Linked DNA regions of Homo sapiens. The protein of the gene in region 1 purifies or fractionates together with the protein of each later gene. This does not show direct contact. Each region holds a gene or a part of one and is shown on either strand. Other genes may lie near its edges.

What was found.
Region 2: the proteins of BRINP1 (region 1) and TTC13 purify together in Homo sapiens (affinity purification with mass spectrometry; one large-scale study listed by BioGRID and IntAct). This does not show direct contact.
Region 3: the proteins of BRINP1 (region 1) and BMP8A purify together in Homo sapiens (affinity purification with mass spectrometry; one large-scale study listed by BioGRID and IntAct). This does not show direct contact.

Annotation. Positions count from the first base shown.
Region 1 is NC_000009.12:119,212,436-119,216,087, reverse strand, and holds part of BRINP1 (BMP/retinoic acid-inducible neural-specific protein 1 precursor), read left to right. Parts: intron 1-1,932; coding exon 1,933-2,169; intron 2,170-3,652. UniProt on the Homo sapiens protein: Plays a role in neurogenesis and brain development. May suppress cell cycle progression in postmitotic neurons by inhibiting G1/S transition.
Region 2 is NC_000001.11:230,919,760-230,923,411, forward strand, and holds part of TTC13 (tetratricopeptide repeat protein 13 isoform a precursor), read right to left. Parts: intron 1,746-3,652; coding exon 1,662-1,745; intron 836-1,661; coding exon 751-835; intron 1-750.
Region 3 is NC_000001.11:39,526,083-39,529,734, reverse strand, and holds part of BMP8A (bone morphogenetic protein 8A preproprotein), read right to left. Parts: 3' UTR 1-3,652. UniProt on the Homo sapiens protein: Induces cartilage and bone formation. May be the osteoinductive factor responsible for the phenomenon of epithelial osteogenesis. Plays a role in calcium regulation and bone homeostasis.

The DNA.
Region 1 (3,652 bases):
GTCATCACATCAAAAATAAGAACAGACAACATTTATTGTTTGCTTGCTATGTGCCAGGAGCTTTTCCAGATAATTTGTAGGCATTCTTTCATGTAGTCCTCTCAATAATCTTTGTACATAGATACTAAGTGGAACCTAACAGGCAGGCTGAATATTTTGCTTGAGATGACTTAGGTAGTAAGAAGAGGAGCCAGTGCAGCCCTGCCCAGGTTTTTGACCACACCGTGCAGTGCAGCCATGCCCAGGTTTCTGACTACAGCATGCAGTGCAGCCATGCCCAGGTTTTTTACTACAGCGTGTGGTGTCCTGCCATAAGGCATGCTGGAGGAATCATCTTCTTTCCCACAATGTCCCTCTGAAAATATTCTCTTTTAGCTGCCATGTGAAGACAGGTTGAAAGGATGGGGCTTATTTAAGTATATATAAAACCTGAAGAAAATGGAAAAAAGATAAAAATCTAGAAACAACTGTGAATAGAAAATGGAAGAAATGCTGACCTTGTTGAGCAAATCCCTGATGAGTTGGATTAAGGAGTGTCCCTGAAGCATAAATGAGAAAAAAAATAATCCAAATAAGAATACAGTTCTCTTTTACACAGTGAGTAGTAGAACCATTACCTCATATTGGAAGCTAAAACTGTTTGCAGCTCCAAATGAGGTGGAGAGAAATGTCCTAAGCGAAAGTGCCCTAATGAATTAAGTTAGCCCAGATCTGTCCTTCTCTCTGGGCACCACAGACAATAGACCACTCTGCTGACTTTTCATAGGTACCAGAGTAGTGCTCATGTCCAAATAAATCCTTCTCTATCATTGGCTCTCTGTATTAAGACTTTGAATATTCAAGTATAAAGAGAGGATCATGAGATGTAATCCAGAGTGCTAATCCTGTAACCATGGGCTGGTCACTTCCTATTGGTAGACCATGGCTTCCTCACTGTTAGAGCAAAGAAGAGAAAATTAATTATCTAGTGATGCTTGTGTCTAGTGATGTGTTAGTTTTTATGTTACAGTGGTCCTATTAAATTATATCACTCTAATTATGTTACTCGTACCCTTCAAAACTACCAATGTGTACCTATGATCCACAGAATAATGTCCAAATTCCCTAGCATATAATAAAGCCCTTTGCACACTGGCCTCTGTCCCTCTCTACAGCTATTTTCTACAGCACGAGCACCTCCATTCATCCAAGTTCATTTCTTCACTAGGAATTTCCAGACACATGATGCCTTTCCTCTTTTAAGAATGTCCTTCCTGTTCTTCTTTTAACCTAGTGTTCTCTTACTTGCTTTTCAACCAGCCCAAATTCTGTCTCCTCTATGAAGGTTTCCCTGCTATCTAAACAATGTTATTTGCAGTCTTCTGCTGTTCATTTGCCTCATATGGCTCTCTCTGCTATAGGTCTATAAAGCCATGTTATGATGATGTGCGTCCATGTCTACACCTGCTGATTATATTGTAAACTCCCCAAGGGCAAGGATTGTGTCTTTTTTTTTTTTTTATCTCTACAGGCCTAGTGCCTAGCTCAGAACTTGTGTTTCATAAATAGGGTTTATATAAATACTTAAGGAAAGCACTTGAGGAAATAAAGAATAATAAACAATAATGTTATATTTTCAATAAGAGTTTTCTCCACAAATGGAAAAGGTATATACCATATGTGGCTCTAGCCTCAGTCCTACTATAACAGAATAGAGTATGCCTTTCAGAGATGGCCAAAGTCATGACCTGAGAAGTTTAAGTAAAAGTGATGCAACTGGAAGCCTCACCAATAATACCCTGTCTGGATCTAGGTTGGCCCAGAAATATATTGGTTCCAATACACAGGGAGAAATGTAGCAGCTTCAGATTCCTATGTATCACCTTTGGAAATTGTTAATGAAACACCTTTTTTTAAACCTTTCTGTTTTCCCTTCTTGCTATTCTCACACAGGTCTTCAGATAATCTTTCCTCAGTATCTGCAAGAGAAGTTTGTCCAGTCGGCCTTGAGCTATATCATGTGCAATGGGGAGGGGGAGTACCTGTGCCAGAACAGCCAGTGTCGCTGCCAATGTGCCGAGGAGTTTCCGCAGTGCAACTGCCCCATCACGGACATCCAGATCATGGAGTACACGCTGGCCAACATGGCCAAGTCTTGGGCCGAAGCTTATAAGGACCTGGAGAATTCAGGTAGAGAGTCTCACTCAGTGCCACTGCATGAGTGGCCTTGAGCCAAGTCTGAAAGGGAGCTAATCTAACTGGAATTAGGACTGCTGCAAGGGAAAGTTCAGTGACCCTGACCCTTTCACTTTGGAGTGTCCAGATGCAAGTATAATAGCTGTCACAGAGCAGGCACTCAATAAATCTCAACTGAATAAAATTAATGAATAGCATAATCCAGTTTGTGGTCATATGATGTATTGTTTCTGTCGTACCCAGAAGACAGAAAGAATAAATCTGCATAGGAAGCCTCTGGAGAGGGAAGAGTCAGAGGTAGTTGTATTGATTCCTTGGGCTGTGTATGTGTGTGTGGATATTTGTGTGTGTATGTGTTTGTGTGTGCACCCACACACTTCTGTCCATCTCTATAACTAGATAAACATACCTCTATGTGTATATTTATATGTGCATATGCATAGAGATATAGATATCCAAAGAATCTACAGACTATCAAAGCTCAAAGTCTCTTTTCTGGTATCTTAGTTATTTTCTGCCTTTCATAGTTCAGAAAAATGAGTTTCAGGGGTGGAAAGACAGTCATCCAAGCTCCTAAAGTGGATGAAGTCTGAAGTAGGATCTCTACCTTCATGGACATTTGAGTTTTGTTGGAAAGCCAGGCATTAATTATGTAACCATGCCAATGATTAGGAAATGTCAAGGATACGTCTGTAAAAAGGGAGGAGTTGCTGTGAACAAACGATGTAGAGTTGGGGGTCAATGTGGTCAAGGAAGTCTACCTTAAAAAAGAACAGAAATGGAAGTATCTGACTATGGTGCAGATATGAGAAGGTGATTACAGGTAGACCAATGGGAGGCACAAAGGGCCTAGGAGAGAGATGACCATGATGTGGGTTAAGGAGATGGTACAAGTTGTAAAAACTGGAAATGTGCAGATATGCCAACATATTTAGAAGGAAAAAATGGCAGAGCTTGATGTTAGATTGTCTACAAGAGTTGAAGAGAAAAGGGATATTGAGGTGATACTCATAAACCTCCTTTAGATAGGCATGTTAGACAACTTGATAGATGTTGATATCTTTCATTGAGCTAGAACACCCTGAAAGATTTGGAAAGAAGACCATGTGCTCACTTTTCTATAGGATAAGCTTGAGAATCCTTGAGACTTCCAAGAAGAGATGCCAAGCAGGTACTTAACATATAATATGTGCTCAAGTACCTGTTAAATAAATGGACTCATGCAAAAAAGCATTCCTGTCTTTACAACAACATTATATTTCTTAAATCTGTTATAATAGCCACCTTAAAGGAAGTACTAACATTTCTGAATTACAGAGAAGGGAACACCTCCTCTATAATCCTCCTGCAAGACCCAGTGTTTTCCCTAGGGTTGCACAGTTAGTAAATGGCAGGATTGGTAATGGAATTCCTGATTCCAAATCTAGTGCTCACAGCAGATTTGGTAACTTAATTTTACTTTGTCCCCCAGGCCTGA
Region 2 (3,652 bases), on another chromosome or scaffold:
TTAACTAAACGCCCAAGGTGTTCACAGGATCCATCCACATTGGCAAGGCCGAAACTCCAATGTCTCTCAGCACATACACCTCTGATACCTCTGCTCAGCTTTCGTTCCCACAGTAGCCACTCTCTGCTGAGCCTCTCATGGTCTTTTATTGCATGTTCATGACCAAGGTCTTAGTCAAGGATGAAAAGGAGTGCTCACATTAACCCCTGAGCACTCCCCAGCCTACATGGCCTCCTTCTCTCCTATACTCTGCTCTGCAAATTCCAGCCACTTTGGCAGAACCAAACTCCACTCTCTACCTCCTTAGCTTAGCAAGACCACTGTACTCTGCTTGGGCTCCACATTACCGTGCAGTGGTCTAATAAATACCACAGTAGAAAGCTGGGGTGACAGTGGGATTCACATTATTGTAATTAGCCAGTGCCTGAAAATAACTAACTTTTGTCCAGTTTTATAACTGCAATCATGTAGAAGGGCAGCTGAGTACCAGTTACTCAGCTGTGGCCAGAAGCAGAATTCAATTATATGTATTTTTAAGTTTTCTTTTTTCTATATTAACTGCTTCCTCACAAGTTGTTTTTTCTGTTTGAGTCTGATGCCTGTAGGTTCTTTTATTTTGGTTATTATTCAGAATGTGTTCATACGAGTGATTTCAAATAGCATTTAATAATTCTGAGTTCTTTTTAAAAAAGTGCTGTTGGTTTTCTTTTCCTCTAAAAACATGGACTGCCATTCTGATGCTAAAGTTACCTTCATAATCGGAAGAAGGTCTTCTACTTTGTGTACCTTTTCCAGGGCTTCCCGAACTTCCAGCAATCCTTTAGGATTATTAGCTCTTAAAGAGAGACAGAGAGAGATGGCAACTGAGATTAATGCAGAATTGTAATAATTAATCATGCAATTATCTTTAATTTAAATAAATTGACCTCAATTTTGAGTAGCTAAACATTCAAAATGGTAGGCCACAAATAAACCTTCCAAATAACGGGATAGTTCAATTCTAATGAGTTTTGGACTGCAGATGAAAATTAAGGAAACAGCAGCAGATGAGAATTAAGGAAACATCTAGAAGGCAAAACAGGAAAAAGCAGAATGGATCAAAAGCCAGTGTTTGTGTGAACATGTATGGTTATGAGTTTGGTTCTTAAACTCTGATTTTCCTATTCCAGCTCTAAAATTATATGTGGATGTTTTGTGTTGTTTTTTTCCTTTCTAAAGCTGCTCAAATGAAAGTATTCTGCTAGGTTTTTCCACCGATTTTATATTTACTTGGTGATATTTAAGCATTCAGATTTTTTTTCTCCTAGTGTTCTGCTCATTGTTTTGTCTATCCCATCCTGCCTTTCAAGTGAAGGAGAGTAAGTATTAAAGCTGAAATCCCTAAAAGATAAATCCAAAGAAACATCCTGCTTTATAGAAGAAAGAGACTAGAAAAGTCACAATAGTGCACATAAAGTTAAAAACACTTCAGTTGAGGTCTGTGGATTTTGTATTAAAAAGAAAGTGATTATGAAAGCCTTTACGATTCTAAACACTGTGTAAAAATTTGATAGACCTTGTTTAGCCCGTCAACAGGCTTAGTTCTCAAGTTTCAAAAATATAACAAATATAAAACACATGAAATCAACTCATTACTAAGAAGGAGAAAATTAAAGGCTTACCCATGATAAACAAGAATTCTGTCTTTAATAAAATGAAGTATTTTCTCAAAATATTCTAGGTATCTCATGTTGATCACCTGACCCCTATAAGGCAAAAATAATAAAATTAAGAATATTTTTATAGAAGAATATGCTCAAGCCAACATCTAATTTCAAAGTTAATTTAAAAAAATAAGAAACTATGAGAATAATGTAGAAAAAAAAAGTCTGGGAAATTCGCTTGTTCATAGTCAATGAGTGGTGAAGCAAAGCACCGTCTTAGCAAGACTGCCTGCCAGCTCACAGGGCCTATTCTGGCATCAAACTCAGTGCCAGATCAGCCACAATGGGAAGACAAATCCCCCAGCACTAAAGTGAGGTCCAGACTTTCATATCAGCGTCCTCTGACGGATCCCATCACTTGTGGGCAGTGTGCCGTCTCCCCTCCCTCAGTTCTCCCAACAGCATTATCCAATACCCTGTCTTGCTCTCTAGCTCACTAGCAGTCTCCTTTCCTCTACCCACTCGGAATACTCTTTTCCTCACATTTCTATCCCTTCTGATCTTTTCCTTTTAAACTCACTCCCAGAACTCCATGTTCAGCCAACATGCTGAGTCACATGACACAGCCGACTGCTCCCAGGACATCGCTCCCTGGGTTCCCACCAGGCATCTCAAACCTCAAAGGTTACTGTCAAGTAAGAATTCCCTCCTGCAACCCACACTTCTCCCAGCCTCCCCACTAAACATGTCCACCTACTTTTCGTTCTGGTGCTCTCTGGCCTAATGGGACAACCACGTACCTGAGGGAAGGTGGCCTTCCTCTAGCTCCATGCCCTTCCCACTGCAGCCCACTGCCAGTGCTCCTGATTCTATCTTCTAAGAGTCTAGCTCTTCCTCTCCAACTCACTACCACACAGCTTTTGAGGCCTTTGCACTTGTCCACCTGAACAACTACACAATTTTCCAACCTCCTCCCTTACCTCCGAGGTTCCTGCCTCCTCTCCAATCTATTTTGCCATCTTCTCCCAATGTGCAAATCTGTTCCTGTTACTTCTCTGCTTATAATCCCTGAATGGCTCACCATTGTCTTCAGGGGAAAAAATTCCTTAGCTTGGACTATAAAATGATTTATGTTCTGACTTCTGCCTATCTTTCTAGCCTTAATTCCTGATACTCCCTTAATTGCAAACTCACCACCAGGCGTAATGAGTTAGTCACAGTTTCCTGACCATACCTAACTCATCCATGGGTCCAAGTTAATCACCCCACCTCTCTCTGTTTTCCATTTTTCCAAATAGCCCTGTAGCACCAGAAGGCTTTATCAGGCACCCCTTCTCCAGGTTCCCATGGCATCCTGTGCATGTGATCAGCTCACTCTTAACACACTGCATAGTAGTTGTCTGCTGGTCTGTCTGCTGTGAGCTTTCAGCAGGTGGGGCTGTATCTCCCTTCTGTATCCCCAACACACAGCACAGCACAGCACACTGGCTGATCTACGGTAGCCTTCGATTAAAGTTAGTTGCTTGAGTCTACCTATCTATGCCACAAATTATTCCATGAGAAATAGGAATATACAAGTCACAAGGTGAAAAGAAATTTGTTTTCTAGAAATTAAAAAAATAAATATACATACAAATTATATTTCCATTAAAACCCAAACTTAAAGGTGTATAGAAAAATATTTTCTTAATTCAGCTTCCTGGAACTAGAAGCATTTTAGAGGTGACACAACTACCATATCTATACATTTTATCTAAAATTAAATTCACTAAAAGATGGGCTGATAATATAGGTCCCCAAGAAACTGATATCCTTTAATATTTGTTCACCATTTATTTAGAAGGCAGCTAGGCACATAAAGAAAGAGTGAAGAAGTGAGCATTTCACCCATGTCCCCAACTAGCAGAGCCTCTGGACAAAACAGAAGTTTTCCAGCCAACCTGACTTGCCCTCCCCAGATGGCAGCTTAGTTACCAGATAGTGTTATTTATCTAAGCCCTTTGTGTGTT
Region 3 (3,652 bases), on another chromosome or scaffold:
AAATGTATATGTGCCAAGTAAGAAGACTGGAAGGAATTATGAACAGTGGTTATCTCTGTGATTGATTATGGGTGTTTGTATTCTGGTTTTTGTTATTTTCAAAATTTTCCCCAGCACACAGATAACATTTTCTTACGTGAGAAAAAATTTTTTTTAAAAAGCAGGGGGTGGAGAGCGGCAACTGTTTGCTCAAGACTTTTCAGTAAGGAAAGGAACCTGGGGTAGAAAGCTCCCCCTTCAGCTGCCCATGAGGGCACAGGTGGGCCCCACACTCACTACGGGGCCAGGGCAGGGCCGCACACCTGCCACTTCCTCAGCAGAGACCCTAGCGCGTGGGTCACTGCTGGCCCAGACTCCTTCCACGAGCAGGCGAGTGTGCAGGGCCACACCTCATCCAAGAGATGATCACGTTTAGGTTTTTGATGAAAAGCATAGCTCTCAGGTAAATACAGCAGCACCTCTAAGCATATTCTGGGAGGAGTGGGTTTTATGAGGAAGGCACACAAGGAACGCCCAAATTTGCAAGTCCCTTTAAAATGAGCCTGCTCAGAATTGCTGTTTATTCCACAGGTCTGCGCAGGCATGGCACTAAGTGTCCCATGGCACATTTGGCCCTCATGGAGGCCTCAAAAGGGCAGGACCAGCACCCTCTTCTACGGAGGAAGGAACGGGCACAGCAGGTACATGATGTGGTCAAATTAACAAGAGGCAGAGGCCGGGTAAGTGGCTCACGCCTGTAATCCTAGCACTTTGGGAGGCTGAGGCAGGAGGATTGCTTGAGCTCAGGAGTTCAAGACTGGCCTGGGCAAAGTTTAAGACCGGCCTGGGCAACATAGTGAGACCTGGTTTCTATAAAAAATTTAAAAATTAGCTGGGTATGGTGGCGTGTGCCTGTCATCCCAGCAACTCGGGCTGAAGTGGGAGGATTGCTTGAGCCCAGCAGGTTGAGGCTGCAGTGAGCCATGACACTGCCACTGCACTCCAGCCTGGGCGACAAAGCAAGACCATGTATGTCTTTAAAAAAAAAAAAAAAAAGGCAGCCAGGACCTGATGCCAGGTCGACTTGGCTCCAAAACCTGCCCTCTCCTTTTCACAGCCTCCTTTCCTGTGAAATAATAGGGAATTTCTCTAAAGCGCATCGCCCGGTCCCTATGTAAAGACAAAGAAACAGGACTTTGCACGCTCACCTGGCATTAGGGCCAGCACTGTGCTGCAGTTGTGAAGATGGCCACTGGGTTGGGGGTTGTTCTGCACCAAATGGCCCCAGACTCCCTGTCAGTGGCTACTTGTTGCAGCCAGTGGGCCTGAGCTGACCACCCTTATTTATGCTCCTGATGTGCAGCCTTGAATGCATCCTGGGCTGTGGGAGGCAACCAGGCCAGAAGATGACCTTGATAGCTGAGCACTGACCCTTCATCAGCTGTGTGTCCTTACGACCTCCTCCCTTTCTGAGGCCTTCTGTATGTGATGTCATTTGGTGGGTGGCTAAAGTTGCTAGAAGTCTGGCCACCAGGAAGGCCACGACTGTCACACTTTGTGCTTTGCTGCATAAAAAGGGAGTCTCATCATGATCCTCAGGCCTGCTGTGCACACCTGATGGGCATAGCAGCGTTTGCGTCTTGAAAACATTCATTTCACAAACTCCTAGCACACCCAAACCATGCCAGGTTACACACTGGGCACTGAAGAGACCACACATTTGTCAGTTTCCGAAACTCTACTGCCCAGTATTGGAAGAAGAGAGCTGTTAAATCAGGTCCTGCAATGGCAGATAGGCCCCAAGTCCTATGGCAGCAGGGGGCTCAGGCCATGTCTCAAGCTCTGGGAGAAGGTCATGGGGGCAGATGGGTTCTCTGGGTTGGAAGAGCCTTTGGAATTAAAGAGTCCTATGTCCTCATGTTGCAGATGAGAAACTGAAGCGTGAATAAGAAAGGGGACTTGTCCTGACACCAAGTCAGTGGCTGAGTTGGAACCAGAATACCTGTCTCCTAACACTCAGGCCATTGCCTCTTCCAATCTCTGCTAGCTGAGCTTGAAGCCTTAGACTAGTGGGGAACTCACCATCTTCCAGACAGCCTGGGCCCACCCTTTATGTACATGAGAGGGTCTCTTCCTCTGCGCTTGCACATGGAGGCCCTCCCTGGTCCAGGTGGAGGGGCTGCTGTCCCGCAGTGTGGCCCCAGCCTCCACCCCTGCTGCTGGACCAGCTCTCCCCAGGCCCCTCCCTGGGGGTGCAGCACGTGAACTCCAGAGAGGCGCATCCTTGGGCCCATGGGGAGGTGGAACCACTCTGCCAGGCTGTGCCTGTGGATGGGGCGGGCCCAGGATCTGCTTTTAATGACACGGTTTGGGCAGCTGGACTCTGTCTGTTCCAGCAGGTAAATTACAGGCTTAGCAAGTCAGAAATCAAATAAACACTCCAACTCCCAGTGGCTGTTCCAAGGAGAACAGCGGTTTCCGGGAACAGTGGAGGCCGAGACAAACCTCCCCACCCAACTCAGCCTAATTACTGCCTGTCACTCCCTGGGACAGGGACCTTTTCTTTGACTCACAGACCCAAGACACAGGACAGCGCTGGTGGGCACCCAGGGTGACGCCAATTTTGGTGGCCAGCTTGTTCATAACTCCTAGACACAAGCAAACACTGGCAGTCCCCACCCTTGCCCCATGCCTGGCCGGAGACTGCCAGTCACCCTGCTTTGGATGGAATGGATTGCTCTGCAGTGGGGCAGGAGGGGGAACTGAGGTCTTATTGACAATGCCTGGTGGTGGCTGTCTGCAGTTCTGTGCTGAGGCCTGGAGGCCCTGTCCTGGTTCAGTGGGAAAGGTACGTAGGTTGATTACTGACATGAGCCATGGGCAAGGGGAGCAGGCTGCGGGGGCATTTGCTCTGTGCCAGCCTACACTACATGTTGGAGCTGCTGGTCTTGCCTCTGTCTCAGTGCTGAGCCCCAAATGGGTCAGCATGGTAGAGATGGTGGAGGGAACTGGAAGCCCCCAGGATTCTTTGCTCCTGTGGGAGTCATACCTCTTTCCCAGGCAGGAGAAGGGGCAGGCCCAGGGCAAGGGAATACACATGACATAAAATATCCCCAGTGGCCAGGCACGGTGGCTCATGCCTGTCATCCCAACACTTTGGGAGGCCGGGCGGGTGGATCACCTGAGGTCAGGAGTTCAAGACCAGCCTGGCCGATATGGTGAAACCCCGTCTCTACTAAAAATACAAGAATGAGCTGGGCGTGGTGGTGGGCCCCTGTAATCCCAGCTACTCAGGAGGCTGAGGCACGAGAATTGCTTGAACCTGGGAGGCAGAGGTTGCAGTGAGCCAGGATTGCACCACTGCACTCCAGCCTGGGTGACAGAGTGAGACTCTATCTGGAAAAAAAAAAAAAAAATCCCCAGTGGCTTCGTGGGGATGTCCAGCTTATTCTTTTTCTAATATGCTAACTGCACCCTGGACCAAATGAGAAGAATCCCAGAACACACTGTGCTGAGAACATAAGCGTGTCCAATTTTGCCCAGAAATGGCCAGTGTTGTACCTGGGAAGAGGCAGAGCCCTTCTCCTCACACCTAAACCCTCTGGTGAATGGAGAAAAGCTCGGGTCAGCCAACCTCAGACCATCCGGGGCCAGCCACAGTCTGACAGGTCCT